Homo sapiens: one gene and its partners. The protein of the gene in region 3 purifies or fractionates together with the protein of the main gene of each other region. This does not show direct contact. Each region holds a gene or a part of one and is shown on either strand. Other genes may lie near its edges. The genes, in order: DICER1, DSG4, ZMAT4, LYG2, CPVL and RNF123.

Region 1 (4,715 bases), on a different chromosome or scaffold from region 3:
CTGGGTAACATGGTGAAACCCCTTCTCTACTAAAAATACAAAAAATTAGCCTGGCGTGGTGGCGGGCGCCTGTAGTCCCAGCTACTCGGGAGGCTGAGGCTGGTGAATCCCTTGAACCCGGGAGGCAGAGGTTGCAGTGAGCTGAGATTGCGCCACTACATTCCAGCCTGGGTGACAGAGCGAAACTCTGTCTCAAAAAAAGAAAAAGAAAAACTTCTGGAGATGAAGGGTGGTGAGAATTGCAAAACACTGTGAAGGTACTTTATGCCATTAAACTGTACACTTAAAAATGGTTAAGATGGTAAACTTTATGTGTATTTTACCACATACACACCAAAAAACCTTCTAAGGGTTGTTCATAAACTGCCTTGCAGACCAGTTATAAAGCACTTCTCCTGGCCTGCACATCTCTCTGCTCCTTGCATCTTTCCAAGGGGCACAGACCTGAGCTGGCTGGGACCCAGCATTTACCATTCCATCTAAAACATACATTGTGCTCACGGATCTGCACACACACAAAAATTCAATCCCATCTGGATTCTTTTCACGCACATCGCAATCTGCAAAATGATACATTCAGCCTGGCTGTGTTCTTTCTTGCTAGCCGTGACAGCTGCAGACGTGAGCAGTTGCTTGTCTTGGAGGGTAGGGTCAATGGTGGCAGGAAGGACCTGTGGCCCTGAGGCTTGGCCTGAACTATCTAGAGAATTCAGGGCAGTAACATCAACACACACAAGCATGCAGCACTTACCCAAATTCCTTAGGATTAAAATATACTTTTTTCTCATCTAGTTTAGGGCAGTCAGAGAGAGAGGAAAGGAAGGGACTAATTTAAACCTACAAAGGAAAACTAAACTTTTTTCTCATTCTAAAAAACTTCTTACCATCTTGTTTCTACAACCAAATGATTCATATTAGTGCTTGGTTTACTGAGTTACAAAAAAAGTTGGGTCAAAAGGCTAAAATGATAGAATTATTTCTTAATCAACAATATTGGAAATGTGTCCTAAAAACCTGGAAGCTGAACATTCTGTCCACCTGCTTTTAGAAAAGCCAAGTTCACCTCAAGAATGTGTCAAACACATCATCTAAATAATCCAAGACCTAGAATGCATCAATCAATGTGACAGAATTTCCAAAAAGCAGATTGGAATTAAGTCTTCAAAAAAGACAGTTGTTACTATATAATTCTACAGGTGGACATGAAGCAGAACTTGGTAAACAAAATTTTATATTAAAATATGCATTTTCATATGATTCACCATGGAATTGAAACATTATAAAGATCATTTCTGCTACCACTATTTAAACGTTATTACCCACTTGAATTGAAAAAAGATGAAAGGACACAAAGTGAACAGACGATAACTTTATTGGAGATTTACTTGGCTACAATTATTACAAAAAAAACAACTAAAGGTAATTGTGATCCATAAGGTGCAGACTGCAAATTTCTGCAGCATGATTACTGTATGAATGAATGACATCATGTTCCTTAAAAAACAGCTGCAGCATGTGATGGTAAATATTTTATTGTCAATCAAATAATATGCATTAGTTTTACTTGATTTTAGTAATTTTCCTTCACTATTTACAGCAGAAAAGCCAGAAATTTACTTCCTGTTCACCTTTGCATTTTTGCTATGTAACCTGCTGCTGCAGTGAATTCTTAGTGCATCTATAAAATTTAAATTGTCTGTGGTTGATGTCCAAATAAAAATGGACTAGAAAAAAAGAAGTAATGATTAAAATATATTTACAAGTTAGTTGTGAAAAATCATTTTCACTGCTAGTGGAAAATACAATGGTCTCAATGCAAATTTCCTAGATATTGCTATTGGCGTCTCCAACAACTTTAAAAATCATTTTAATAGTCTTGGTCTTAAACATATCTTTAAAACTTTTCATGTACAATATAAAATAAAGAAATTTATCTGGAAATAATTAAATTCCTGAAAAGTAATCAGTGGTTGGAAAAATATAATTATTCAAATGTAATTAAAACAACCATATAGGTAATAAACATGACATGAGTTTCTCTTCTGCAGATAATGCAAATGGGTTAAAGACTCTTAACATAATTTCAGATGCAGTTAAAAAAAGGTATCAAGGTCTCAGTTTGGTGGCTTCAATCTTGTGTAAAGGGATTAGACACCCTAACAGAGCAAGATCCAATATTTTAAATCAACGGGGCCTTGTGCATGAACTGCGCTCGATCTGGATTCCAGTGATCCTCTGCAGTGCCCACCTGCCTCCAGGGAGCGACTGAAGAAGCCGACTGCCGGGGGAACACCTGGATTCATGAACCAAAGCAGCCTCAAGTTTCATGTTGTCAAGGCAGGGTATCAGAATCTTTCTGAGGGCAAAGTATTATTAACAAATAAAAATATCAGTATTTTAAAAGACAATTACAGGAGTGTTAGAGGTCATTCTAAATTTCATCACTTCACGTAATATAAAAGAAAAAAGAAAAGAAATATAACAAACATTTTAAAAACATAATTAAGAGTTCAGTTAACAAATCTGTTTCATACTTTCACAAACAGTAAAAATGCCACAGACAAAAATGACCTATTTAAGTTGTGCGAGTATATGACACATTGCAGGCATTATAATTATCTTTTTCAAATTCCATAAATCAAAACAGCAGCAAGGCCAAACCACATTTTTTTCCTCTCTGTTAAGCATATTTTCTTGAAATGAGGTAAAGCATGGTACCAAGTGCAATGCTTATCTGTGCTACATGAACAGAACAGAAGGGAAAAAGCTATTATAAAACGCAGCATAGTTAGGACTGCGGAAAGCATATTATAAAAGAAATTTTAAAAAATTTACAAATGAAGGTTCATGTTAACTAACTTGCACACAATCATCATAAGGAATTTCTGCAGTTGCTTTTTCAAGACACGCCTCCCCAGTCCTTTACACACGTGCTCAGGGCACAACCACACCCCACTGGTAGGTTTTCCATATTACATTCGGTCTCACATTGCAATCACAGGAACACAGGGTGGCACACAGGGCTCTAAAGTGGGGCAACATAGAGTGATTTTTTTTTTCCTTAATTGACAGATGCAAAACATTTCAACAAGCTAAACACAGGAAAACTTTACAGCATTAAAAATCAGCAGCACAAAAGCGTTCATAACCATTTCATATGTCTAACTCGTACTTTTTTATTTTTTAACTCAGTAACCAGGGGATCACAGAATGCTTCAAACTGTGAGTCAAATTAAAATCTACTATTTTTCTCCAACAAAAAGTGAAACGGCTGAAGTTTGCTGTTGATAAAACATTTGAATGGTAGAAGGAAATTTGAACCCCTGAGAATGTATGACCTAATCATGTCTAAGTTTGAACATCTTAGTATTAACAAAAAAATACTCTTCTTAAGGTTACAAATATATTGAGGCATTTTTCTCCCACTGGGAATCATAACTGTGAAAACAATCTGATTTTGGTGCCAGGAATCAAGAGAATCCCGTAACACTGGGATCAATGTATTAGACACAATGCAAAGCCCTAAGCTCCTGGCATCAGGTAGTTTATAAATATTAAGAGATTTGTGATTAAACTTGATCACAAATCACCCTCAGAATAAAATTCACATCCAGCCTTGTTAACTGCACACTTTTACAGTTATATAATTCAAGAATTGCTTTGTTTTAACTGGTCATATCTTACATTAAGGTTTTTTAAAAAATCAAATAGACATCTAAGGTTCCAAATCGGAATTAAATATTTTTAAAACAAGTCACCTAATTTGCTCAAAAACTCGTTTAATAATTTAGATCTCAATTTAAGTTTAAGATTGGAGACAACAAAAAACACTGGAGAAGCTTAATACCCCCCTCACTCAGGGTTCCTTAGAAAGCAGAGCTGACAGTTTTCTGTCGGTGCACTCGCACAGAGGCATTTCTCTGTGGGTGGATGATGCAGATAAAGCAGGAAGGACAGTATTCAAATGTCACTTACATATAAATGCAGCATTCCACGAAGCATCAAGTTCAGAATCATGTGCTGGGAAATATGAGACACCTCTGCTCAGCTTTCTTAAACTTCAAGCATAATTAACGGGGCAAATTGCAGCAAACCTCTACTGGTATGTTGATGGGAGTGCAAGACTGACCCACAGCTTTTAAAAAGGTAAATTAAGAGGTATTATAGTTACAGTGCAAAAAAAAAAAAATTAAAATTTCAAGCATAATACATAAACATAGCACCAAACAGGGGAAAAATGCATGCAAAAGAAAAGAAGAACTGAGGTATTTAAGTGAAGAGTGCCTACAAGTCTAATTAAAGAAACTTAGGCAAATGCCTAAAGAAGTTTTTTTTTTTTTCCTTTTCCAAAGATGGAAATAATGAGCTAGTTTATCTAAATTAATGACCTAAATCACAGATGTATCAAAATTACGGCAGTTTATCGCAAACGTTAAACTTTCACGGCATTAACAGCACAGCTTTGGTAGGTGAAATATGCATGCAACATTATGAAAAGTATAGTAAGAAATTTATGTGAGGAGACTAAGGGTAAAGGTGCTGTGTTTTGCTTCTTAAATAAGTAACCAATCAATTATAAAATCTGCAGCATATTTTAGGTGTGATATGTCTAAGGTTTATTTTGTTAGAGCAACAGCCTAGAAGGCAAAATTATTTGCCATAAACATTTCCATCAGTGGGAACTACCTGGCAGGAGGACTTTAGTAAAATGGGGT
Region 2 (5,314 bases), on a different chromosome or scaffold from region 3:
ACCTCATTCCAGATGTATCTGGAATGAGAGGCTGACCACCAGCTGTTGAAAATGTCAAACATGGGAAAATTACGCTTATGTTCTCTAAAATAGTTCTTTTGGCTAGGTAGTAATACAAACATCAAGGTTTAAAATTTCATTTTAATTAGCCTTTCTCCATTACTTTGGTATTTTTAAGCACATTTTTTCTTACTCTTTTTAAGAGATTTGGAAAGTTATCATTCAGAAAAAAATAGATAGGGCTTTGTATATACAGCATCCAAATTACCTTGACAAATTTTTCATGAAATTGATATTTCAATAGCTTTTTTTTTTTTTTAGCAATTAAGTATATCTTTAAAAAAGTTGTTATCACAGAAGGCACATTACATAAGTCAGATAGTACATTGCCTGCATTGTTAATTTTTTTCATATTTATAATTGTATGCAGAAGTTACGAATGATGCAATCAAGTCCAGTGACTTCTGTTTGGATGATATCTATGCCATTAGTTTCAGGTAAATAGTATCATCAATACTATTCTCAAATTTTGTGAGTCTCTACTATCTTTTGGACACTGGACCAGGTGCTGGGGGTAGAAAGATATTTAGATCAGGTTCTTTATGCACAAAATTCTTCTATTATTTTAGTAGGTTGGGAGACAGAACAAAAGCAAAGAGCAGTTACATATTATGAGATAATATACAAAGTTAGTCACTAAGATGATAAGAACATAGGTAAGAATTGCATGTTATGTCTAGCTCTTGATTTTTAACCAGGATGCAAGGTTTAACAAATTCTGATCCCTGGAAGAAAAACTTGACTAAATATTCAGAATTTGATATGGTGGGAGGTGACCTCTTGTTCCTCTATTCCTCTTTGTATTGTATTTGGCAATGTCTCCTATACCCATTCCTTTTTTTTTTTTTTTCCATTTTTACTGCCATTGCCTTAGATCAGATGCTTAGTACCTCAGAACTTAATTAATATCATAATAATTTTTATAACTGTGGTCTTTTCAGAGTTGAACTCATGTTGTTAAGTTTCACTTTTGTTGCCGAGGCTGGAGTGCAATGGCACAATCTCAGCTCACTGCAACCTCCGCCTCCCGGGTTCAAGCGATTCTCCTGCCTCAGCCTCCCGAGTAGTTGGGATTACAGACATGTGTCACCACACCTGGCTAATTTTGTATTTTTAGTAGAGATGGGGTTTCTCCATGTTGGTCAGGCTGGTCTCAAACTCCCGACTTCAGGTGATCTGCCCGCCTTGGCCTCCCAAAGTGCTGGGATTACAGACGTGAGCCACTTTGCCAGGCCGGTGTTATTGTTATTTTAGAAAATATCCCAAAGCTTTCCTTGGTCTATAAGTAGGAATTGAAAAACTTTTGGTTAAGGGCCAGATAGTAAATGTTCTAGGTTTTAGGGGTCATATCATACAGAGTTTCTATCTCAAGTATTCATATCAGCAACTTGAGTGTGGAAACAGCCACAGAAAATACGTAAATGAATGTATGTGGTTGTATTCCAATAAAACTATTTATGAAACAGGGGACAGGTGAGGACCTCTGGATCATAGTTTGCTGACCTCTGGCCCAAAGCAATGTTTTCCAAACAGAAAGTCCATGATATACTCTTTGAGTCCTTGTGTTCACTTAAGAAATTATAAAATTGTGTGTATTCATTTGGATGACAATCTTATATATAAATATTTTTCATAATTTTGGTGGCCAGCTCTTAAGTTAATATACCATATGATTTCAGTGTGTATGGTTGTGCTTTGGTGGTAAAGTAGTAATACTAAAATTGCTCAGATACTTGAGAAAGAAAAGCGAAAGACCCAATGAATAAACGATATGTTTGCTTCCAGAAGGCTAAATGGCTTCCTAATATGCTATCTGAAAAAACTTCACAGTAACTTGATGATATGGTTTGGATGTCTGTCACCCACAAATCTCATCTTTAAATGTGATTCCCAAAGTTGGAGGTGGGGCCTGGTGAGGGGTGATCGGGCAGATCCCTCACGAATGGTTTACCACCATAGCCTTGGTGATAAATGAGTTTTTGCGAGATCTGGTTGTTTACAGGAGTCTAGGACCTCCCCCTTCTCTCTTCTGCTACTGCCCTTGTCATGTGATGCACTGGCTCCCCCTTTGCCTTCCACAATGATTGTAAGATTCCTGAGGCCCTCACTGGAAGGACATGTTGGCACTTTGCTTCCTGTATGGCCTGCAAAATGGTGATTCAACTGAACCTCTTTTCTTTATAAATTACCCAGTCTCAGCTATTACTTTATGGTAACACAAAAAGAGCCTTATGTGCTTGAATAGAGAAAAATAGTAACAGAACTGAATAATCACACTGTAAATTCCACAATCACACTGTGTAGTAAGCTAAAAATATGTGTGTACATATATGTCTTAATATATATTTTCCTGGCTATAAGTGTTGTTTATGTTGTTAGCAGCAATTTCCTTTGTTAAAAAATAACAATTTCCCTCATTACAGTAATGTTAATCTGAATCTTATTGGTTTGTGGTTTTATTCGTTTCTAATTATAAATTTTTCAGTTTTATCATTGTCTGTGAATTAAAAGCAAGTAATTAAAGAAAAATTAATCTATAGAAAAAAATCAAAGCCGGTATTTCAGTATGCAAGGTTCTCAGCAGATCGATTTCAGCTTCACTTCTCTGATCTGACTTCTGATTACTTCCCTACTTGATGCCCCACTACAGCCCCACGGGGTTGCTCACCATGCCCTGAACTTGCTTCATGTTTTCTCACTCTGTGTTTGTTTATTTTATTACCCACATTAGCAATCTTAGCTATAACATCTTGCTTAAGCCTTATTTCCTGCATGAAATCTTTTCAGACAAATCTAGCTCAGAAGGATCTCACCATTTCTTATCTCTTTCATTATTTCATATTCCACTCCCTTGGCAATTAATTATGTTTTATATCATGACATCTGTATTATTTATTGCACTGTGAACTCCCATATATCTTCTAATTTGGGGTTGCTTACCTTATCTTCACAACTAGATATTGGACACTGTCAGAACAAAACAGTCTTCATATTTTTCTTGGTAATAAGTTTTGTGTTGCTAGCTAGGAGACTCAGACTGACATAGCAGTTACTTAGGACCCTTGATATAAACAATATTCAAAGTTATGAAGTACTTTTTTTTAAAGGCAGATTCTGTCTCTAAGGTCATTTAAAACTTCTTTGGAATAAAATATTTTGGAAGAAAATATTGCAGATCCTTATACTGTACCTTGACAACTTTCAAAATGCCTTCATTGGTTTGTGGATCTGTTTGAATATCGAACCAATTCCCATCATTTCCAGAGAGAATTAAATATTGAGCCAACCAGTTATCAGTGCCTTCTTCATCAAGATCAATTGCTTGTAATCGTATCAGTTCCGAACTTAAACAATTCTCTTCAATACTGGCTGAGTACTAAAATGCAAGGATCAATTTTGTAGTCAATGAATTTTCAAAAGAAGAAACGTACTTAAAACACATTATTATTATTTAAAATACTAACAACAAACTATGTCGATGATTTTTGCACCATTATTAAATGCCCATAGTCCAATCAGGAGAATAAGAATAAAATGATTATAAGATAATAAAACTGACATTCATGTGCTGTATGTAAAATCAAGGTCAAATTAGCACTTTGTTCCTTTCTCTTTTATTTATTTATTTATTTTTGCTTATTGTTAATTTTCTTTATTTATTCTTTTCTTTTAGATAGAGGACCAGATTTTTTTCTGTAAAGGGCTGAATAGTAAATATATTAGATATTGTGGGCCAGAGAATTGGTGTTGCAACCCCTCACGTCTGCTGTTGCAGCACAAAGCCCCCATAGACAATATGTAAAGGCATGAGGACAGCTATGCTCTCCAATAACACGTTTTTTGTTTTGTTTTTTTGTTTTTTTTTTTAAACCGAAACAGACAGCAAGCCAGATTTGGCCCTGCTAGTGTGGATTTTATGCTTCTTTATGCTTAGAGATGAAAATGGAAGTTGAGACTGTCTGGGACTCTAGTAGAATTCATTCAGCAAATCATGAGGCATATACAAAAACATTAATGTTGCTATGTTATTCCCAGAGTTAGATCAACAGATTTCTGTGTTTCTGTGAATAGAGTATACAGAATAGATAGTTCGTTGCTTTCACAGAGAAGGCTTGTTTGGAGTAGTGAGTCAAAGACAAACATACAATTTGAAGGTATATTAGTATACATAAGAAATTCCAAAGTTTCTATAACAAAGTTGAGTATGTCCACACATAGGACAGAACCAGGCTCATGAGCCAGCATGATTGATTATTGACACTTATGCAAATTGATTATTGACACTTATGGAAAAAGGAAGATAAGAATACAAACTTACTGAAGTTTTCTCTAAGGTGGGGAAATTATCGTTGACGTCTAAAACCTTGATTCTACAGTCACACTCAGAAGACAGTCCATCTGCAGCTCCATCCCGATCTGAGCCTCTCACAACCAGGTTGTACATACTGTGTTGCTTAATCAAGATGAAAAAGAACGTAAGACTTAGGTTTTGTCTTGAATAGAATCCAATGCATTCAATGCCATTATTTCTCTACTCTTTTATTTACATATCCAATGAAATTTATATAATTGAGCTTTTAATTTTTATTAAAAATGGATTATTTTTCTTCCCTCCTTTATATTGGAGTAAGGGTACACATGGATCATTTTATCTTTGTCTTTTCAAAATTGAATTTTTTAGTTCTTGTTCATTCACAGAAGGCTTTACCTCTCTGTCCAAGAAACTGGACATGGTGCAGACTTCTCCAGTGTACCTATTCAGAATGAACATGGGTGCACCTGATGGCTCCTGAGAGACGATCTTGTAGGCAATTTTAGAATTCAGATGATTTTCTTCATCTGCATCTGTGGCACATAACTTTACTACCAATGTATCTAGAAATAGAAATGGAGGTGGAGAATGGTTGGGACTCTTAGAATAAATTCAGCAAATCATTAGGCATAAGAAGACAGAGTGGTTGGCCTTCTCCTGAATTCTCTCTGTTTGAGTTTTCCATGGGAATATAGTACCATAACTTTCAGCTCTACCAGTGATTAAAAAAAATGTGGTTTGCTTTATAAAACCCTTTACTGTTTTAAAAGTACTTGCACTCCTTAAATGATTAAATACTAAATTAGTGGCTAAACATAGTTCTCTTTAAAGTACGAAAAAGAAGTTCAATAGATTCTTTATCATATAGCTGAATAAACAGATTTTTATCTGTTTTATTTTTTGCCATGGTCTTGTGAAATCATTTAAAAATGCTTAATTAAG
Region 3 (5,314 bases):
AGCATATGTTGAAATTTCATTTTCCAAAAACAGTGCTGTCATAGAATATTCTTAGGATCTGAATAAGAATTTGAACATTGTTGGTATAATGTAGACTAAAAAAATTGAGACTATATGCATATTTTTAAAAATAGCTTTGAAATGTTTGAAATTTTGCCTTAGCATGACCCTGGTAGCTATAGCCACTTTTTAGTAGTTGTTATAAAAATTAAAATCCTGTTTTAGAATCTCATACTCTGCTACCATCCGGTCATGACCTAAAGAAATTCAACAGTCCTTGTCATCTTCAAAAATTAATGTGACATAAGGGTTGAAAGTTCTCACTGAGCAAATAAGTATAATTTCATTTTTATAAACTGCAAAGATGAACACTTTTGAGATTAAAAAGAGTTTGAAGGACAGCATCTTCACGTAACAGTAAGAAGACCAAATATTCACAGCTAAACAGTCTTTAGTCATGATTACATAGTTAGAGAAAATCAGATGAAAGGGTTTTTTTTTTAAACTTATAGTAAAAGTGGTATATTAAGAACTTAATCCCATAATGAGGAAAAATATCACATTCTTCCTTTTTATAGTCATTGTAATTATTCAGATCCTTTCTGAATACATAGAAATAATGACAAATTAAAATGTCTTTCAGTTCCCTATAGCTTTTGTAATTATTCATCCATTACTGTTATTTTTGCTGGAAAGGCTACTTCATATTTTAGTCAGCATCCCATTTGATACAAAAGAACACGGAAAATTTCACTGCTATTAATAAACACGCAGCCATCCAATCCAAGAAGAAAATTCTTTTTCATCTGAGAGATAAGCTGCATAATTCATGTATTTTCAGAAATTTCTTTAAATAGAAAATTGAAGAAAGGCATAGGGAAAAAAATTCATCACATAGCTTCCATTTGTGGCGAAGGGCAGTCTTTGTTCTCTGACAGCCTTAAATATGATTCCATCTGAAGAGAGAATTTCAATTGCGCCATATACATACCAGTCATAGTCAGATAGCTCATCTTCTTTTTGACATATATGAAACCACAAACATGATGAAAACATGGCCTCAGTTTCACATTTGCACATTTGCTACCTTTTTTTTTTTTTTTTTTTTTTTGAGACTGAGTCACGCTTTGTCGCCCAGGCTGGAGTGCAGTGGCACAATCTCAGCTCACTGCAACCTCTGCCTCCCAGGTTCAAGCAATTCTCCTGCTTCAGCCTCCCAAGTAGCTGGGATTACAGCCACGTGCTACCACACCTGGCTAATTTTTGTATTTTTAGTAGATACAGGGTTTTGCCATGTTGGCCATGCTGGTCTCAAACTCCTGACCTCAGGTGATCCACCCAACTCAGCCTCCCAAAGCGCTGGGATTACAGGTGTGAGCCACTGCGTCCGGCCCACATTTGCTACCTTTCTAAAACTAATGTAACTGAGTGTTAATAGGGACTTTTCATGGGGTCTCAGGAAGCAGTTAGAAAAATGTTGGGCAATTTGGAATGGGTACCTCTGCCTTCCCAAAAGAGAAGTGTCCCTGTCAGGGAATGTGGCGCGACATAGAACTTCTGTGATGTTCAGCCCCTATTGAAGTCTGGGCCACACGGGGCATGTGGCAGCCTTCTAGCACAAGCCAGATGAGAATCACATCTGTAGGAACAGCCATGTCCAAAAGCTTCCGCTTCTTCCACCACTAGTCTTTCCCCTTATTCTCATCCTGAAGGTCCAGGATAGGGGGATTCTCTGACCTGGTTTTGAGACAGAAATCTTAAGATAGACTAGTAACAACCATTGAAAATGGTCTCACCTTGGCCAGGTGTGGTGGCTCACGCCTGTAATCCCAGCACTTTGGGAGGCTGAGGCAGGCGGATCATGAGGTCAAGAGATCGAGACCATCCTGGCCAACATGGTGAAACCCTGTCTCTACTAAAAATACAAAAATTAGCTGGGCATGGTGGCATGCTCCTGTAGTCCTAGCTATTTGGGAGGCTGAGGCAGGAGAATTGCTTGAACCCAGGAGGCAGAAGTTGCAGTGAGCTGAGATTTTGCCACTGCACTCCAGCCTGGCGACTGAGCAAGACTCTGTCTCAAAAAAAAAAAAAAATGACCAGATATGTACACAATCTTCCTGAGATATTAACAATATGGAGGAAGAAAGAAGAAAGCACTTTGACCATGTGAGTTTGAAGGTGGTAGCTAGAGAAATATATAATGATTAATTGGTCCCACACTGAATGTAAACTGTTCAATAAGCCAGTGAAAAAACAGAGCAGAACATCCTTAGCCATGATGAAGCCTAATTTCTGATAGCCAGGTAGCAAGCTTATAGTGACAAGGAAAAGGCAGTCATGGGCCATGGTTTACATGAAATGATACGGCCAGAGTTTGTTAGGAGAGGAGGAGTCATGTCTAAGGCATTTTTCACAAAAATGTTGCTGAACAGTCATGACTTGGAACTTGTTCAGCCTATTGCCTGAGAACTGAATGACATCCAAGGACATAACACTTTGGGCCCATAAATTAAAATAGTGCATTGATAAACCAAATGAAGTTATATTTCCAAAATTGAACATTTCCTAATTTCTATTCTTGTATTTCCTAACTTGGCCAATAAATATTCAAGACAAAAGTGCAGCGTTTTCCCTGGCCAGTTCCTTTTTCTCCATCAGCCCATAATCAATCAATCCCAAATCTTATTGGTCTCCTACTTCTCTCTTAAATGTCCCATTTCCTCTGCATCCCCTGCCCCATGTCCTACTCCTGGTCTGTGGCATTGCACTAGTTTTCTATCTGGGATGTTTGCAGTCAGCTCTGCAGCCTCATCACACTGGTGTTGCAATGCCTCACTGGGTTCCCAGCACCTTCTGAGAAAATAAAAATGTCTTAATATGACACATAAAGGTCACTGTAATGTCACTGGCATCTTCTTCTCCATTCCTGTCTTTTACTCATTATTCCTTGCGATTACTCCACCTATCTGGATCACAGAAAATCAGGTGAGGCTCCTCTACGTGCTGGCTCTCACATGTTGCCATGGTTGGTGCAGGCAGTTCCTTCTGCTTGGAAACTCATCCCCCACCTCTCTGCTTGCCCAGCCTCTCCTATCCCCCTTGGTGGAAACCTGCTTCTTCCAGATCGTGTTTCCTGAATTTACCCTGACACAACAAAATGTATTTGGAATATTTTGAGCAACCACCTGGGAGTGGAGAACAAAACTTTAAGAAAATGCCCAAGCTACAGAAGGAAACTGCTGTGCTTAAGACAAGGGGCACAAGGTGTCTTGCTTCTGAAAAGGGTGAATGTCAGCGGGATGAGGGGGTTTGGAGAAAAAAAAAAAGAGAAGAGAAAGAGAATATGAGAGAAGGGGAAGAGGCCTAGAGAGAATAGAATCAGGAAGATGGCTTTGTTCTCTGCATGTTGATAGCTCTGTATGACAACCAAATCTTCAATACAGTCATCTAGACAAATAAAATACTTCCAAAGTGGTAATTTGTATTGGAAGCCTATGTAGTCTGATTGATATGGGGAGTGGGAAAAAGAAGCACTCAAATGTACAGGGGAGAAAGATGAAGAGAGATCATTAAGATGTTGGGAATCAAAAGTGGAGGCAGGACTTTGGACCCTAACAGGTTATAGACTTTTTTGGGTAGTCCTAAGCCCATTCAGGACGACTGAAAGTAGAATGGGGTTCAGTTGACACCTCTGAGATCTGATGAACATAACAATTTATCCAAAACCTTCTTGAAAAAAACAAATCACAAATGTTTTAACCCATGGAATAAAGAAATAATTTAAGAAAACTCAGGCTAATTCAGAGAAAAGTCAGGTATTGGGAACATTCAAGAAATTGGGAACATTCGAAAGTATAGCACTTTTAAAATGAATTCAACTCTTCTGCTTCCTAATACATATACACTAGCAAAATTGATAAGAACGATTTGTAATTGACTTACCAAAACACCTAAGAAAACAAGCCTCCTCTGCTTATATAGAATTTGCATTGTTTATATGCAAATGACCACTCCTGATGTGCTTCAGAACAGTTTATTCCCTTAAGAAGGCAAATATTCTCTTTATAATCTTGTTTACACTATTCATTTGCTTTGCAAAACGTTTTTCATAAAATCACAAATTAATGAAATGTTAGAGCCAGAAGGGATCCCAGAGATTATCTAGGGAGGTCGAACATCATCATTTTACAGATGAGGAAACTTGCTAGAACTCCTAATACACACACATCCTCCTCATTCCTGAGATCCACAACATCACAACCTGACCTCCATTATTTGGGTGACTCCATTCCCTTCTACTTTGGGGGTTCTGGCTACAGCTGAGGCAGAGCAAGGGGTCTGCAAAGTGCTAGGCTTTGGGCATCATCAGGACCCTGTAACCAAAAAATAAAATTCTAAGAAACCCTCCCCATAACCATTAGAATGGACTTCCTGCTCAGCCAGGGCTCTTTTAAAATTTAACCTAAGAAACTGTTTCAGGCCATGATGGGAAATAGGAGTCGGACTTGCCTCATTATACCTCTCCAGCATGAACATCAATACAGACTTTAAGTCTGATAAGAAACACTTTGCAACCTATTTTCTCGGGAGCCTACTATCTGAAGGCTTCCTCTGCAAATAAAAACTTGTGCCTCTGCAACCCTTTGTTTTAACCCAGACATTCCTTTCTGTTAATCCCAGGTCTTTAGACAAACTCAACCAATTGTCAACCAAAAAATGTTTACATTTACCTATAGCCTGGAAGCCTCCGAACCCCGCTTCTAGTTGTCCCACCTTTCTGGACTAAACCAATGTACTTTTTAAATGTATTTGATTGATGTCTCTTGCCTCCCTAAAATGTGTATAAAACCAAGCTACACCCCGACCACCTTAAGCACATGTTCTCAGGACCTCCTGAAGGCTGCATCGCGGGCCATAGTAACTCATATTTGGCTAAGAATACATCTATTTAAATATTTTACAGAGTTTAACTCTTTTTGTCGACGACAACATATTAGCCTCCTCATCTGAAGTGAGAGAGTTCAGTACCCCTCTTCTATTCACTTACAGAACTCGAAATCTGGTTAATCCTTGTTTGTTTCCAACCCCTAGCTCCTGCATTCTCTCCCCTAATCTTTCCTGACTCCCCTTTTCCTCTCGCCCCTTTCTAATTAGAACTTTCTTTTATTGTTTCCTTTATTGCATTTTTCTTTCTCTTTTTTTTTGTTTTTTGAGACAGAGTCTTCCTTTGTCATCCAGGCTGGAGTGGTGCAGTGGCACCATCTCAGCTCACTGCAACCTCTGCCTCCTGGGTTCGAGCGATTCTCCTGCCTCA
Region 4 (5,314 bases), on a different chromosome or scaffold from region 3:
CCAGCCTGGGCATCATAGTGAGAGCCCATCTCTAATTAAAAAAAAAAAAAAAAAGAATTTAAAGTTAAAAAAAGAAAAGAAACTGTTTCTTCTACTTCAGAAGAAAACCATTTTTAAAAATTTGCTAAGTTAGCCACAGCCTCTGATCACTGCTAATGACTTGGGACAACCATTCTAAGACATCCTTTTGATCTCTGACTGCAGAAACAAACAGATCCACAACCCCCAACAGGTGTCGCTTCTGCTCTGTTTCTCCTTCAAATTGCTCATGCCTGTAATCCCAGCACTTTGGGAGGCCGAGGTGGACAGATCACTTGAGGTCAGGAGCTCAAGACTAGCCTGGCCAACATGGTGAAACCCCATCTCTACTAAAAATACAAAAATTAGCTGGACTTGGTGGCAGGCACCTGTAACCCCAGCTACTCAGGAGACTGAGGCAGGAGAATCGCTTGAACCTGGGAGGTGGAGATTGTAGTGAGCCGAGATCATGCCATCGCACTCCAGCCTGGGTGACAAAGCAAGACTCTGTCATACACACAAAAAAAATTCTGCCACACTAGTGCACTGGGAAGCCTGTTGTACTAGGAGTTAGCCAATGCATGTTTTAGCCTGGCTCCGCCACTAGTTGGTTCTGTTCTATTGGGAAGTATTCCCCTCCTTGCTGAGTCTTTGGGCTCTGATTTGTAAATTTGAGGGGTTGGGGTCTGATGTGACCTTGTGGTTGCTGCCAGCTCCGACACTCTAAAACCAGGATAACGTGATGAAGACGACTTTGGAACAGTATTGCTTCAAATGGTCATGTGTAACATGAAGCAAACACAGCAGCACCACCCAAAAAACAAAGCCAGAGTCTAATATTTATTCAAGCAGTAGTTTCAATACATGGAAATAAACACAGCTGGACAAAGTTTGGAAAGAATGGGGGTGGAAAATGAAAAGAAGCTGGTTGTTAGATTGGTCAGGATTGTGGTTTTTGCTCATTTTTAATTTTGATACTATTGTCATAATGATGATTATACCTTTTCAAAATTAAGTGACTTCCTAAGAAAGAATCTGAAAACGATGAAAGGGGGAAGCCAGTCATTTGCTCTGCTTTTCACTTACCGCAGTTCATCACACTGTTTGCATCACAAGTGGCCCCAGAGGTCTTCATGGTCATGATGTCCCCATAGCAGCCGTGGTACAGGCGTGGATGTAGGTGAGGCTTCATTGAGTGACTGAAGGGGTATGAGCCCCTGGAAGTGCCTAGGAGGCAGAAGTGTAACTCACATGAATCCTCTGAGAAGATATTACTTGGGTTGCTGCAATAAACATCACTAAACCAAAGGCAGAAGGCCACAGACAGAACTCCCCAACTCTCTTGTTGCCATTATTTGTTCCTCAGACAGAAGTTCCCCATGCCCACTCTGCTCCGATCTTTTGTTTTGTTTTGTATTAACACAGGACGTAATCTGAAAACTCTATGCAAAATATTATGAAATTCATCTCTTATAGATCCTAAATACATGTGCAGTCTTTTTTTTTCCTTTTTTTAAGAGACAAGGTCTTGCTCTGTTGTCCAGGCTGGAGTGCAGTGGCATGATCATAGCTCGCTGCAGGCACCAACACCTGGGCTCAAACTATCCTCCCACCCCAGCCTCCTGAGTAGCTGGAACCACAGGTGCATATCACCAGGACTGGCTTATTTTCTCTTTTTGTAGAGATGGGGTTTTGCTATGTTGCCCAAGCTAGTCTCAAACTCCTGTGCTCAAGCGATCCTCTCTCCTTGGCCTCCCAAAGTGCTGGGATTACAGGCACTGTAGTCATACCATGCTCTATGTCAGAATTAAAACTGACAGGTTTTTAAGCAGGAAACTTGAGAGTTTTTTTTTTTTTTTTAAGATTCAGGGGGTACATGTGCAGGTTTGTTACGTGGGCATATTGTGTGATGCTGAGGATTGGCCTTCTATTGATCCTTCACCCAAATAGTGAACACAGTACCTGATGTGTAGTTTTCAACCCTTGCCTCCCTACCTTCCTCCCTCCCTCCTTCCTTTTACAGTCCCCAGTGTCTATTGTTTTGAGAGGAATTTTAAAACATTTCTGACACAAATGCCTCTGGAGATGTGAACATCTAGATTAACAATTTGCCTTTCTTAAGCCAAAATTGACAAATGGGGTCTAATTAAACTAAAGAGCTTCTGCACAGCAAAAGAAACTACCATCAGAGTGAACAGGCAACCTACAAAATGGGAGAAAATTTTCGCAACCTACTCATCTGACAAAGGGCTAATATCCAGAATCTACAATGAACTCAAACAAATTTACAAGAAAAAAACAAACAACCCCATCAAAAAGTGGGCGAAGTACATGAACAGACACTTCTCAAAAGAAGACATTTATGCAGCCAAAAAACACATGAAAAAATGCTCACCATCACTGGCTATCAGAAAAATGCAAATCAAAACCACAATGAGATACCATCTCACACCAGTTAGAATGGCAATCATTAAAAAGTCAGGCAACAACAGGTGCTGGAGAGGATGTGGAGAAATAGGAACACTTTTACACTGTTGGTGGGACTGTAAACTAGTTCAACCATTGTGGAAGTCAGTGTGGCGATTCCTCAGGGATCTAGAACTAGAAATACCATTTGACCCTGCCATCCCATTACTGGGTATATACCCAAAGGACTATAAATCATGCTGCTATAAAGACACATGCACACGTATGTTTATTGCGGCACTATTCACAATAGCAAAAACTTGGAACCAACCCAAATGTCCAACAATGATAGACTGGATTAAGAAAATGTGGCACATATACACCATGGAATACTATGCAGCCATAAAAAATGATGACTTCATGTCCTTTGTAGGGACATGGATGAAATTGGAAATCATCATTCTCAGTAAACTATCACCAAGGACAAAAAACCAAACACCACATGTTCTCACTCATAGGTGGGAATTGAACAATGAGAACACATGGACACAGGAAGGGGAACATCACACTCTGGGGACTGTTGTGGGGTGGAGGGAGGGGGGAGGGATAGCATTAGGAGATATACCTAATGCTAAATGACGAGTTAATGGGTGCAGCACACCAGCATGGCACATGTATACATATGTAACTAACCTGCACATTGTGCACATGTACCCTAAAACTTAAAGTATAATAATAATAAAATAAAATAAAATAAAATAAAAATAAATAAATAAAATTCAAAAAAAACCAATTTGCCTTTGTTTAGAAAGATAAGAAAGAAGGGCACCATAACAATTTAAATATATTCTTATTATATATCATTTACTGTGAAGTTGAGTTCCTATGTATATTTAATAAAATTAGAAGTAAAAATTGAATTTGCCAAAATAATTTAAGTCAAATCTATTCTTGTCTTTTTGTTCTGTCATTAAAAAGTGAATTTCTGTCCAAGTCTACCTGTTACAGGAGAGGCAGAGCTTTTGCTAAAGGAGATACAAAGTTATTTTCTGTAATGTTGAAAAGTTTGTTCTAACGGTTTCAAGGACTGTTAACTTGTACCTTAAGAGTCCAAATATTTGTTATAAGACAGTACTTAGGGCTGGATGTTGTGGCTTATGCCTAGAATCCCAGCACTTTGAGAGGCTGAGGCAGGACGATTGCTTGAGCGTAGGAGTTTGAGACCAGCCTATGCAACATGGCAAAACTCATTTCTACAAAAAATACAAAAATTAGCCTGGTGTAGTGGCACATGCCTGTAGTCCCAGTTGCATGGGAGACTGAGACAGGAAGATTGATTGAACCCGGGAGGTCGAGGCTGCAGTGAGCTTTGATGGTGCCACTGCACTCCAGCCTGGGCAACAGAACAAGACCCTGTCTCAAATCTCAAAAAAAAAAAAAAGGATTTTGTTAAAATGTTTGATGTAAAAAAAATAGAATCTGGTTGGGCGTGGTGGCTCACACCTGTAATCCCAGCACTTTGGGAGGCCAAGGCAGGCGGATCACCTGAGGTCGGGAGTTCAAGACCAGTCTGACCAACACGGAGAAACCCATCTCTACTAAAAATACAAAATTAGCCAGGCATGGTGGTGCATGCCTGTAATCCCAGCTACTCGGGAGGCTGAGGCAGAAGAATCGCTTGAACCCAGGAGGAGGAGGATGCAGTGAGCCGAGATCGCGCCATTGCACTCCAGCCTGGGCAAAAAGAGCGAAACTCTGTCTCAAAAAAAAAAAAAAAAAAAAAAAAGAATCTAACCACTTCTCCCACCTCTGCTTCTGCCATAGTCCCAGCCAGCATCATTGCTCATCTGGACTCTCCTAACAGCCTTCTAACTGACCTCCCTGATTCACTCTTGCAGCCCATCCTCTACTTAGTAGACGGAGTGGCCCTGTGGGAATATGCATGGGCTGCTATCAGTCTTCTCTCTTAACCTTCCAGTGGCTTTCTCCTCCTTTAGGGGAATAGCCAAGTCCATCCTGCAGCCTCCAAGACCTACTAGATGTGGCCCTCTGCTCCTGTTCCTACTTCTCTTTCCCTTTGTTCACTCTCCTCCAGCCACATTCTTCTTTGTGCTTATCCTTCAACATGCCAGGCAGGTTTCTGCCTCAAAGCCTGTATGTTTGTGGTCCCTTTTGCCTAGAATGCTATTCCTCCTGGTATCTACATGATCATGCCTTCAGGTCTCTGTCCAAATATCACCTTATCAGCAGAATATATAGCGAGTTTATAGACAAAAAAAGAAAATAGTCCTTAAACATATAAAAGACGTTAAACCACACTCAAAAGAAGAGAAAGGCCACATTAAAACATCATTATAACAGCATTTTCCAACTCTTTTTTTTTTTTTTTTTTTGAGACAGAGTCTTGCTCTGTCGCCCAGGCTGCAGTACAGTGGTGCGATCATGGCTCACTGCAAGCTCCGCCTCCTGGGTTCATGCCATTCTCCTGCCTCAGCCTCCCCAGCAGCTGGGACTACAGGCGCCTGCCATCACACCCGGCTAATTTTTTGTATTTTTAGTAGAGGCGGGGTTTCAGCATGTTAGCCAGGATGGTCTCGATCTGCTGACCTTGTGATCCGCCCACCTTGGCCTCCCAAAGTGCTGGGATTACAGGCGTGAGCCACCACGCCTGGCTGCATTTTCCAACTCTTTAGTTGGCAAGAGCCCAAAGGTTTGGCAATACCCTCTGTGGGAGAGGTTGTGAGGAAATAGGCTGTCACACACATTGCTGTGGAACACAGTTTTGTGATAGGCTGTTCATTCCAGCACTGTTGATAAGAGCAAAGGACTGCAAACAACACAAATGTCATTAATTTAGGGACTGGTTGAGTAAGTGATGCTACGTCCACAG
Region 5 (5,314 bases), on a different chromosome or scaffold from region 3:
ACTAAGGGCCACTACATGTCCCCAAGAAAACCAAACACAAGGATGGCTGAAATGCTGGCCTGACCTAGTTAGACTCTTTCTTTCCAAGAAAGTAAGTATTTCATCAAGTTTTGCAGGTTTATAATGGGTTTGTAGACTTGGCATATAATTGGTCTTAAACTATTTTCAACAATGGTTACGTGTCCAACACTGTACTAGAAGCAGGACCCAGAAATGGGCCTCCTAGGTCTGGCATATTCTAAACCACAGTCTAGTTAGGGTGCATTGGCCAGGGACTGCCTGGATAGTATTGCAGATTGTGCACTGAACAATCCTAAGACACACCATTCCTAATATACACATTGTAGAAATGAATATTCAGCATGCCAGCAAATGGCAGTAAAGAGTCTGGTTTTAACTAAGGCAGTATATCAGGACAATTTCTGAAAGATCGAAATAAAGTATCTTGAGGAGAGGATGCCTTTATTCTAATTCATACAAAAATCCTATGGGCTGCCGACTGCCCTGTTTTTTGTTCATTCAAAACAGGATATAGGGAGGAAGTGGATCACTCAGTGGTGGTCTCCCCAGTCATCAGTACAGGCATCCTTCGGAGTTGCCCTAGAGACGATCCCTTGGGCAAAGGCTAACAGCACTGGAGGACCAGAGGAGGAGCTGAGAGCGTAGTACCAGGAAAGAAATAATACACAGGCTGACTTTCCCCATGTCATTTGCTCTTGGTGTCCTCCTTCCCAGTGGGAGTTCCAGGGCCCATGTCTTCTTTGCCTGAACCTCCAGGGCTCCTTTTCTGTGACCTCACTCTCCACTGGCACCTCCACTGGCAGCAAAGGCAGAGCATTTCAACCAGACAGCACAATGGCTTGACTTGACCTACTTCCAAACAGGGACCCTTTCTCATTCATCATTTCAACCTCACACCCTAAGGAGAGACTCAAAACACTGTGATTGGGTAAAGTGAATGAATACAACCATTAGGCAAAATGCATTTTCAGAATAACCAGTTGATTTCATTTATCCCTGACGTCATTGGGATTCATGTAACAAAGCAACACATAAGAGAAATCTGGCTCTTACACACGGCCAGTCATCTTTTTGGCTCTGCAACTCTTCCTTTCTCAAGAAAGGATGAGAAGTGGTGTGTGCCAAAGGGAATTTCATTTTAAGGAATAATCAGGGGAAAGTGGTTAAATTATTTTATTTTATTTTTATTTTTTTGAGACAGAGTTTTTGCTCTGTTGCCCAGGCTGGAGTGCAATGTTGCGATCTTGGCTCACTGCAACCTCTGCCTCCCGGGTTCAAGTGATTCTCACGCCTCAACCTCCCAAGTAGCTGGGATTACAGGCACCCGCCACCATGTCCAGCTAGTTTTTGTATTTTTTAGTAGAGAGAAGGTTTCACCATGTTGGCCAGGCTGGTCTCAAAATCTTGACCTCAGGTGATCCACCCGCCTCAGGCTCCCAAAGCACTGGGATTACAGGTATAAGTCACCACAACGGCAAAAGTGGTTAAATTAAAAGGAACAATATAAAACTTTGAATTGGAATCAAACAAAGAAAGGGGCTGTTATTTATGCTAATGACACATCATAAAAGTTAAAAAAAAAAAAAAGGCAGGACTCAAATTACAAATCACTTCTGCTCTGGGTAATCTGAAAGTTCCTAAAATAGTAACTGAAGTAGCTCTCTTACCTTATAATTATTCATGATTTCAGTTAACCATGGCTTAACTGACTGTACTGTATCTTCTCGCAAGTACTTTTCAACTATAGTTCCATCATTAAAAGTCTGATTCCCCACGTGGATGGCTTGTCTCACCTCTGGGAGTGACAAAAATTTCACATAGTAAAGCTGATCCTCAGGTTCCTGGCAGAAGGGGCATTGGAAAGACATAGGGAACATGATTGGTGGCAGGAACAGTATGTTGGGAAAAGCTGTGAATTTCTCATAACATACAACATGGAGAAACGTGACGGGACTATTAACTTGTCGCCATTCTTGAAATTTTAACTCGGAGGTTTTGAGATAATTTAGGTGGAATCTTTTTACTAATTAGAAATCTGAAATACCCTTAAAATACTCTTAAAATACCCAATTTGCAAATACAGGATTTTCCTTTGCAGAAACTAATCTTTTGCAATCTGTGACTCCCATTAGCAACCCCACTAGAGGCAAAGAGAGAGAAAACAAAAGAGATGAGATTATCAAAATCAATTCACTCCTTGTTGGTGGCTCTTTGGAAAGAAGGTCAAATGGATCACAAGGGCCAGGTTGGTGGTGTGCTGGATTTAAAGCTAAGAATTTCTTTTCTGTGTTCTGCTGTTTATTAAAACCACACACATGTATACATGTGCCATGTTGGTGTGCTGCACTTATTAACTCGTCATTTAGCATCAGGTATATCTCCTAATGCTATCCCTCCCCCCTACCCCCACCCCACAACAGTCCCCGGTGTGTGATGTTCCCCATCCTGTGTCCATGTGTATACATATGTAACAAACCTGCACGTTGTGCACATGTACCCTAAAACTTAAAGTATAATAATAATAAAATTAAAAAATAAAAAAAACCGCACACACACACAAAATTGGATTGACTATAATAAAGGGGAAAATATGTCAAATGTGAAAAGAGATGATACTTTATGAAGGACACAAGACAGAAGAAAAGTTGTCCATGAAGCTTATTAAAAAAAAAACTGCAATAAAGTCTCTGTAATAATCATTATACTGAAAGAAAGGAGTAAATGCTTTAAAAAAAAAACAGTTACACAAGGATTAAAAAAACTGTTAAAGTTTGAGTTTGACAACTTTGTGCTTCATCAACAATTTTTACTAACTGTGAATATATTGTTGTAAAGAAAAAAAGGTATCATCACAAATTTTGTTTCTGTCTTGTCTACCACATGTTTTTCTCTTAGTAGAATCTAAATCCAAAACTGCAGCATTGGCGAATTCCACTGAAACTAACGTTATACTTTATTTACAAACTAGTTCATAAATCAGGCAATTTTAAAAACAGAATGCATTGTCATAAGCATTAGACAAAGATTATACAAATTCAAACACCTACTTTGGCTCCTTCTGTTTGACTAATTCTACACAAAAGATATCAACTTTGGCCTACTTTTATGAAACAAACTACTTGAATACTTTGAGAAATATTCCAGAAGGCTTGAAGTGAGGGCCATACTAAATGCATTAAACATCTTAAAAGTAAGACAAAGCAAATATTTTCATTAAGGCTTTGGCAGTTTTGATTATCCAAGCGTCTTAAGTACAGAACAAAGAATGTGGGCATTTTCAAGAGACTCGTAAACAGACTTGAAGCTCTGGGACCTGAGACCCAGAACTCCAATCCCAGCCTGTGTCCTTCACAAAAGTGCCTCTATAACAAGCTCTACTTGGGGGAAATCATGTTCATCAGAAGTTGTTTTGAGTTATCTGAAATATCACACATTCTCAGTGGTCAGATTATAACGTATACAACACTGATGAGGAAAAGATTCTATGGGTTAGTAGACCACATCACGCGGTACAGTTTGGACATGTTGGTCTAGTATAAAGTCATCTATAATATTTCCCAAATCAAAGGAAGTTCGGTTTTGCCAAAAGTTTTAAGCAAACATTATTATGGTTTTTAAAATGTCATTACCGTGCACCGCAAAAAGTTATAGTAATTACTACATCCTGTAACATTCTGGAAGTAAGAAGGATCACTTGTTAAGTCGCCATCTAGTAGTTTATCCAGTATCTAGGTTGGGAGAGAGGGAGAAAGAAAGAAAGAAAGAAAACATCAGTGTGGATAAAAATGTACAGACATTTGTCATTTCATTTATTCAACAACTTTTTCATTCCTTTATTGTTTCATCCAGCGCCCACTTATTGTGCATATTCTCTGTGCTAGACACTGTCATGGCACTGGAGAAATGGCCATCAACAAAACAGACCAATGGTCCTCCCCCATGGAGCTTTTATTCTGGTGGGGGACAACAAGCATTTCTAAGTAAATTATATCATATGGTAGACAGTGATAAACTCTTGAGTATGTTAGGGAATGACAAGGAGAAAACTAAAGAGGAGTAGGAAGTGTCATGTGTGTGCATGTGTGTATGGGACAATGTAGAGAGGAGGTCACAGAGGACCTCACTTAGAAGGTGGCATTTGAGTAAAGACATATTGGATGAGAGGAATAGAGCCATGCAGACATCTAGGGGAAGGAAGGTTCCAGGCAGAGGACACAGTAAGCTCAAAGGCCTTGCCTATGGGAGTAAGCCTTGTGGGAAGGGTGCCTTAACATGGATCATGAACTGCTCACCAGATGACATGGAGAGAAGACGCAGGATATGGTGCAGATGCAGGTTCCTGGAGCTGGTGGAAGTTATCTTTGGGCTGACATTAAAAAACCCAGTCACCAGCTGAGCGGGAGAGCAGTCAGCATGGTTGCATGCTTTCCTCCAGCCATTGTCAGCTGTGTGGAGACAAGCACAGCCTGACAGAGAGGCAGATTGAGCCAGGGCTGTGGTTCAGCCAAAGGAGTTGGAAGAAATGCAAAAGAGCTTTGGGCTTGGAAATGTATGGAATGACTGACCCTGGGTTGAAGACAGGTAATTAGAGAAATGGAGACTTGAGGGGGTTAGAGATAGTGGAGAGGCAGGAGGATCAATGGATTGAAAGGTAGTGAGGTTGCAGGGCTGTAAGATCAGTACATTAGCAGAAGAGATTCGGACAGGAGGTGGTAGTTGGAGAAAGATGTTTGAATGTGTGATTGTGGATCAGCTGCCAGCATTTTAGGGTATGAGAATCAGCAGCTAAGATGAGGAGGAGAACAAGATCATTGAAAAAGAGGAGGCTGAGGCACCAAGGACCAGGTCCCAAAAGGATCGTCAATGTGGATCCTGCAGTTACCAGGAATTATGACAAGAATAATGCTGCAGAGAGTGACAGGGAGGAAGGAGCTCAGCTATTCAAATGAGAGGGAGTAACCAGGGGTTGGTAGGCAGACACAGTTGGAAGTGGTCAGAGGCCCTGTCTGAGGACAGGAGAGTCAAAGCTCAATGCTTTAGGAGGAGGCAGGGAACATGATCTGAAAGTCACATGATGAGCAAGGAAGACACCTACTCCACCTATGAACCAAGTGATACAGACAAGCTAAGAGAGAGAACAGCCCCCACTCAAGAGGACCACAGGGACTGCAGCATCAGGGGAGAGCCAGGTTTCTGGCAAAGCAAGAAGATGAAGAGAAGAAAATAGTCACAGAAGAGGTTGAAGACATGGAGGGGGGTTGTTGATGATGATATTAAGTTGTAAGGAGTTCTT
Region 6 (5,314 bases), on a different chromosome or scaffold from region 3:
GATCTCTTTGAGACCCTAATTTCAATTCTTTTGGTTATATACCCAGAAGTGGAATTACTGTATCATATGGTAATTCTGTTTTTTATTTTATTTTTAATTTTAATTTTTTATTTTTTTTGAGATGGAGTCTCACTCTGTCACCCAGGCTGGAGTGCAATGGTGCGATCTCGGCTCACATCCTGGGTTCAAGTGTTCTCCTGCCTCAGCCTCCCGAGTAGCTGGGACTACAGGTGCGCACCACCATGCTCGGCTAATTTTTGTGATTTTTTTTTTCTTTTTTTGAGGTGGAGTTTTGCTCTTCTTGCCCAGGCTGGAGTGCAATGGCGCGATCTCGGCTCACGGCAGCCTCTGCCTCCCAGGTTCAAGCAATTCTCCTGCCTCAGCCTCCTGAGTAGCTGGGATTACAGGCATGTGCCACCACGCCCAGCTAATTTTGTATTTTTTTTTTTTTGAGACAGAGTCTCACTCTTTCACCCAGGCCGGAGTGCAATGGCGCTATCTCAGCTCACTGCAAGCTCCGCCTCCCGGGTTCACACCATTCTCCTGCCTCAGCCTCCCGAGTAGCTGGGACTACAGGCGCCTGCCACCACGCCCGGCTAATTTTTTGTATTTTTAGTAGAGACAGGGTTTCACCGTGTTAGCCAGGATGGTCTCGATCTCCTGACCTCGTGATCCACCCGCCTCGGCCTCCCAAAGTGCTGGGATTACAGGCGTGAGCCACCGCGCCTGGCCTAATTTTGTATTTTTTTTTAGTAGAGATGGGGTTTCTTCATATTGATCAGGCTGGTCTTGAACTCCCGACCTCAGGTGATTCGCCCGCCTCGGCCTCCCAAAGTGCTGGGGTTACAGGCGTGAGCCATCGCGCCCTGCAATTTTTGTATTTTTTGTACAGATGGGGTTTCACCGTGTTGGTCAGGCTGGTCTTGAACTGCTGACCTCAGGTGATCCGCCTGCCTCGGCTTCCCAAAGTGCTGGGATTGCAGGCATGAGCCACCGCGCCCGGCCAATTCTGTTGTTTAATTTTTTGGAAACTACCATATCATTTCTACAGTGGCTGTGCCTGTTACATTCTCACCAGTAGTGCATGAGGGTTCCAATTTCTCCATACATATCCTTACCGACACTTCTTATTTTCTGCCCTTTTTTTTTCTTGGTAGACGCAGGGTCTCACTATGTTGCCCAGTTGTCAAACTCCTGGGTTCAAGGAATCCTCCTGCCTCGGCCTCCCAAAGTGCGGGGATTATAGGCATGAGCCACCACACCCGGCAATTTCTACTTTTTTAATAGTAAATCCTAATGGGTAGGATATGGTACCTTATTGTGGTTCTGCATTTTGCTAATGATTAGTGACATTATGACAAATAGTACCTTTACAAGCACTTATTGGCCATTTGCATATCTTTTGTTTGTTGGTTTGTTTGTTTTGTTTTGAGAGGGAGTCTCGCTCTGTGGCACAGGCTGGAGTGCAGTGGCAAGATTTTGGCTCACTGCAACCTCTGCCTCCCAGGTTCAAGCGATTCTTCCACCTCGGCCTCCTGAGTAGCTGGGACTATAGGCATACGCCACCACGCCCGGCTAATTTTTGTATTTTTAGTAGAGATGGGGTTTCACCTTGTTGGTCAGGCTGGTCTCAAACTCCTGACCTTAGGTGATCCGCCTGCCTCGGCCTCCCAAAGTGCTGGGATTACAGGCTTCAGCAACCGCGCCTGGCCATATCCTATAATTTTGCTGAATTTATTTATTAATCCTAGTTGGGGTTTTGTGTGTGTGTGTGTATCTTTAGGATTTTCTACTTATAAAATCATGTCTGTGAACAGAGATAATTTTACTTTATCCTTTCCAGTGTGGTTTCCTTTCTTTTTCATGCTTAGTTGCTCTGGCTGGGATTTCCAGGACTGTGCTGAGCAGAAGTAGAGAAAGTGGCACACTTGTCTTGTTCTTGGTCTGAGGGAGGGAGGGATTATAGTCTGTTACCACTGAGTGTGATGTTAGATGGAGGCTTTTCATATATGGTCTTTATTATGTTGAACTGCCTTCATTCTCTGCATCTTCAGCACTAACTCACCTGTGTCTTTCTAATCCCATTATTAATGGAGAGATTCACTCCTGTAAACCAGCACTTTGGGAGGCTGAAGCGGGAGGATCACTTGAAGCCAAGAGTTCATGACCAGCCTGGGCAACCCATCTCTACAAAAAAAACAAAATTTAATTAGCGGGGCATGGTGACACATACCTGTAGTCCCAGCTACTCTGAGGTCAGGAGTTCAAGACCAGCCTGGCCAACATGGCGAAACCCCATCTCTCCTAAAAATACAAAAATTAGCAGGGCGTGGTATCACATACCTGTAGGAGGATCACATGAGCCCAGGAGTTCCAGGTTACAGTGAGCTGTGATTGTGCCACTGCATTCCAGCCTTGACGCTATATGTGCCCAAAAGTTATGCTCTCTCCTTCTTTCTCTGTCTTAGCTGCTACATCTTCCCCTTCATCTCCCTCCAGCACAGGCTCTTCCCCATCTCTGAAATAGTCTCACCAGGGTCTCTGTCTGCCCCCATCTCAATCCGGCCGGCACATTTCCATCTCCTTTGCATTGATACCTTAGCTCTGATGGGGCCATTGCCAGCCCCTCACCAGACACAGTCTTCGCTGGCCTTCTGTAGCAGCAGGATCATCGCTGCCTAGGTTTGCGCCTAGGCCCTCCCCTAACCTCTTGCTTACATCTTCTCCTCAGTTCCTTGGGCTTTAGGGCACATCAGAGAGCTGGTGTGAAGCCCAGGTGCTGTGACCGCACTCCAAGACACACGGGTGCTGTGGGTCTGGGCTGGGGCCTGAGGCCTCATTCTTGCCTGGGCTCCTTTGTGAGACCCTGACATAGACTTTGTGGAAACCACATTGTGGGGAGCAGGGCCCTCAGCAGGTTTTGTCTGTTTCCTGTGACCTCTGTTCCACCAGTCACACTGCCCCCTGCTTTCCCACCACCTTCTCCTTTGCACTCCAGATCAAATTTCTGCCTGTCTGCTTACCATCGCCAGCTCTCTTGGGCCCTTCACACACCTTGTACTCCACTTTTCCACACAGACTTCCAGTCACAGCACCCTCTTGCCTAAAACTTGCTTACAGGCTGAGGCAGGCAGATCACCTGAGGTCAGGAGTTCAAGACCAGCCTGGCCAACATGGCGAAACCCCATCTCTACTAAAAATACAAAAATTAGCCGAGCGCGGTATCACATACCTGTAGTCCCAGCTACTCGGGAGGCTGAGGCAAGACAATCCCTTGAACTTGGGAGGCGGAGGTTTCCAGTGAGCCAAGAGGGCGTCACTGCACTCCAGCCTGGGTGACTCCATCTCAAAAAAAAAAAAAACTTGCTTACAAATATGCTGACCAGAGTTCTGGCCTGGGTCACAGTAATGCGCCCTCCAGGCTGAGTGCGTCCCTCTTGCCTGCTGAGGACTTGATTGCCCTGCTTGAGCTACTGCTCATGCTTCCTGAAATCCAGGTCTCAGTTGTGCTGTCGTAGGCCTGGGGAGGCCTTTCCTGATCCCCAGGCCAGGACATGCCCCCAAGACCCCACTGGTGCGCAACCCAGCAGCACCCCGTGTGCCTCCTGCAGGAGAAGATGCTGGACATCTACTGGCTGCTGCGCGTCTGCCTGCGGACCATTGAGCACGGTGATCGCACAGGGTCTCTCTTTGCCTTCATGCCCGAGTTCTACCTGAGCGTGGCCATCAACAGCTACAGTGCTCTCAAGAATTACTTTGGTCCCGTGCACAGCATGGAGGAGCTCCCAGGTGATGGAACCATTCAGGCTGAGGCAGAAGCAGAAAAGGGGTCTCTAGTGTGAGCCCTAGGAGCCCTGGTCTGAGACCTCTGTGGCCCAGCAACACACTTCTGTGGGGGGCGGGGAGGGGAGGAGCTTCCTCTGTGGTTCACCCTGCAGCAAACAAACGTCTGCACCCTGCCCTGGGACCTGCAGCCACAGAGCCAACAGCTCCCTAGCAAAGGAAAACAGACAAGATGGAACACGGTGGGTGTAGACCTCTTGGCTTTCACTTCCTTCCTAGTGCTATGAGCAACTGCCATGGTCCAGGAGCCAGCTGGCCTTGCACCTTGACTCCCTGGCACTGGTCACAAAGCGTAGCAGTTGGTCAGGGGCAGAATGGTTTGTCTTGGTAAATCACAGCAGGGGGTGGACCCTGCTAGGGTCCACATCCGAACCTGGGCCTCTCAGCCTGCTGATTCCAGGCTGGGCGTGGCAGTGTATGTCTGGATCAGGCAGTGAGCTGTCAGGCCCCTAGCCTGCCCCCTGCCCAGCCACAGGCCTCAGTGCAGGCTTTGTCTTCAAAGACAGAGCTGTGAGTGCCCAAGGAGCTTTGACTGCTCATCAGGTGTGTGTGCTGAGATGGGTTTGAGCCCAGGTCAGGGCTCCTGCCAGGGCCTGTCATCCCTTCACAGTGAGCCTGTGCCTTAGCCCTTGCACAGCCACCAATGAATGCTTTGCCCGATGTCCCCAGATGCCACCCTGGGTCCAGGCTGGCCTTGGGAGCCAGCTCTAGAGCCTGCTACCCAAGTCCACCCACCCTGCTGACATGCCTGCCTCTGGAGCCCCCACTCCCAGCCGACACGTCTCACTTCCCACCCTTGCAGGCTATGAAGAGACCCTGACCCGCCTGGCTGCCATTCTCGCCAAACACTTTGCCGACGCACGCATTGTGGGCACTGGTGAGGGGCCCCTACAGAGGGTACAGGGGGAGGGGGATGGGATGGCACCTCTGGTCGGCTTTCTTCTATGAAAAATGTGGCCAGGTGGGCATGAAGTATGGGTCCAGGGCTCATGCCAAGCCCCTGCTGAGGCACGGTGTGTCCCCGCAGACATCCGAGACTCACTGATGCAGGCCCTGGCCAGCTACGTGTGCTACCCACACTCCCTGCGGGCTGTGGAGCGAATCCCCGAGGAGCAGTGAGTGGGGCCTGGGGGGCACACACCCTGGCCACAAGCACCATGCCCAGCCTCACCCCGTCTCTCCCCTCCTTGCCCTCACAGGCGTATCGCCATGGTGAGGAACCTCCTGGCGCCCTATGAGCAGCGGCCCTGGGCCCAGACCAACTGGATCCTGGTGCGGCTCTGGAGGGTAAGCCTGACTCGAGGGGAAGTGGCTGAGGCTGGCTGGAGGGAGAGGGTGCGCTGTCCCATTGACCTGGGCACTGACCCCCACCTCCACAGGGCTGTGGCTTCGGGTACCGCTATACACGGCTGCCACATCTGCTGAAAACCAAACTTGAGGACGCCAATTTGCCCAGCCTCCAGAGTGAGTA

What was found.
Region 1: the proteins of ZMAT4 (region 3) and DICER1 purify together in Homo sapiens (affinity purification with mass spectrometry; one large-scale study listed by BioGRID and IntAct). This does not show direct contact.
Region 2: the proteins of ZMAT4 (region 3) and DSG4 purify together in Homo sapiens (affinity purification with mass spectrometry; 2 studies listed by BioGRID and IntAct, with this or other methods). This does not show direct contact.
Region 4: the proteins of ZMAT4 (region 3) and LYG2 purify together in Homo sapiens (affinity purification with mass spectrometry; 2 studies listed by BioGRID and IntAct, with this or other methods). This does not show direct contact.
Region 5: the proteins of ZMAT4 (region 3) and CPVL purify together in Homo sapiens (affinity purification with mass spectrometry; one large-scale study listed by BioGRID and IntAct). This does not show direct contact.
Region 6: the proteins of ZMAT4 (region 3) and RNF123 purify together in Homo sapiens (co-immunoprecipitation; one large-scale study listed by IntAct). This does not show direct contact.

What each region holds. Positions count from the first base shown.
Region 1 is NC_000014.9:95,084,874-95,089,588, forward strand, and holds the end of DICER1 (endoribonuclease Dicer), read right to left. Parts: 3' UTR 1,355-4,715; downstream 1-1,354. UniProt on the Homo sapiens protein: Double-stranded RNA (dsRNA) endoribonuclease playing a central role in short dsRNA-mediated post-transcriptional gene silencing.
Region 2 is NC_000018.10:31,390,277-31,395,590, reverse strand, and holds part of DSG4 (desmoglein-4 isoform 2 preproprotein), read right to left. Parts: intron 4,936-5,314; coding exon 4,769-4,935; intron 4,514-4,768; coding exon 4,379-4,513; intron 3,437-4,378; coding exon 3,251-3,436; intron 1-3,250.
Region 3 is NC_000008.11:40,533,590-40,538,903, forward strand, and holds part of ZMAT4 (zinc finger matrin-type protein 4), read right to left. Parts: intron 1-5,314.
Region 4 is NC_000002.12:99,245,576-99,250,889, forward strand, and holds part of LYG2 (lysozyme g-like protein 2 precursor), read right to left. Parts: intron 1,246-5,314; coding exon 1,105-1,245; intron 1-1,104. UniProt on the Homo sapiens protein: May act as a potent antibacterial protein that may play a role in the innate immunity.
Region 5 is NC_000007.14:29,062,373-29,067,686, forward strand, and holds part of CPVL (probable serine carboxypeptidase CPVL isoform b precursor), read right to left. Parts: intron 3,750-5,314; coding exon 3,651-3,749; intron 1,863-3,650; coding exon 1,689-1,862; intron 1-1,688. UniProt on the Homo sapiens protein: May be involved in the digestion of phagocytosed particles in the lysosome, participation in an inflammatory protease cascade, and trimming of peptides for antigen presentation.
Region 6 is NC_000003.12:49,708,868-49,714,181, forward strand, and holds part of RNF123 (E3 ubiquitin-protein ligase RNF123), read left to right. Parts: intron 1-3,611; coding exon 3,612-3,789; exon of another isoform or gene 3,790-4,025; intron 4,026-4,645; coding exon 4,646-4,720; intron 4,721-4,870; coding exon 4,871-4,958; intron 4,959-5,042; coding exon 5,043-5,130; intron 5,131-5,222; coding exon 5,223-5,307; intron 5,308-5,314. UniProt on the Homo sapiens protein: Catalytic subunit of the KPC complex that acts as E3 ubiquitin-protein ligase. Promotes the ubiquitination and proteasome-mediated degradation of CDKN1B which is the cyclin-dependent kinase inhibitor at the G0-G1 transition of the cell cycle.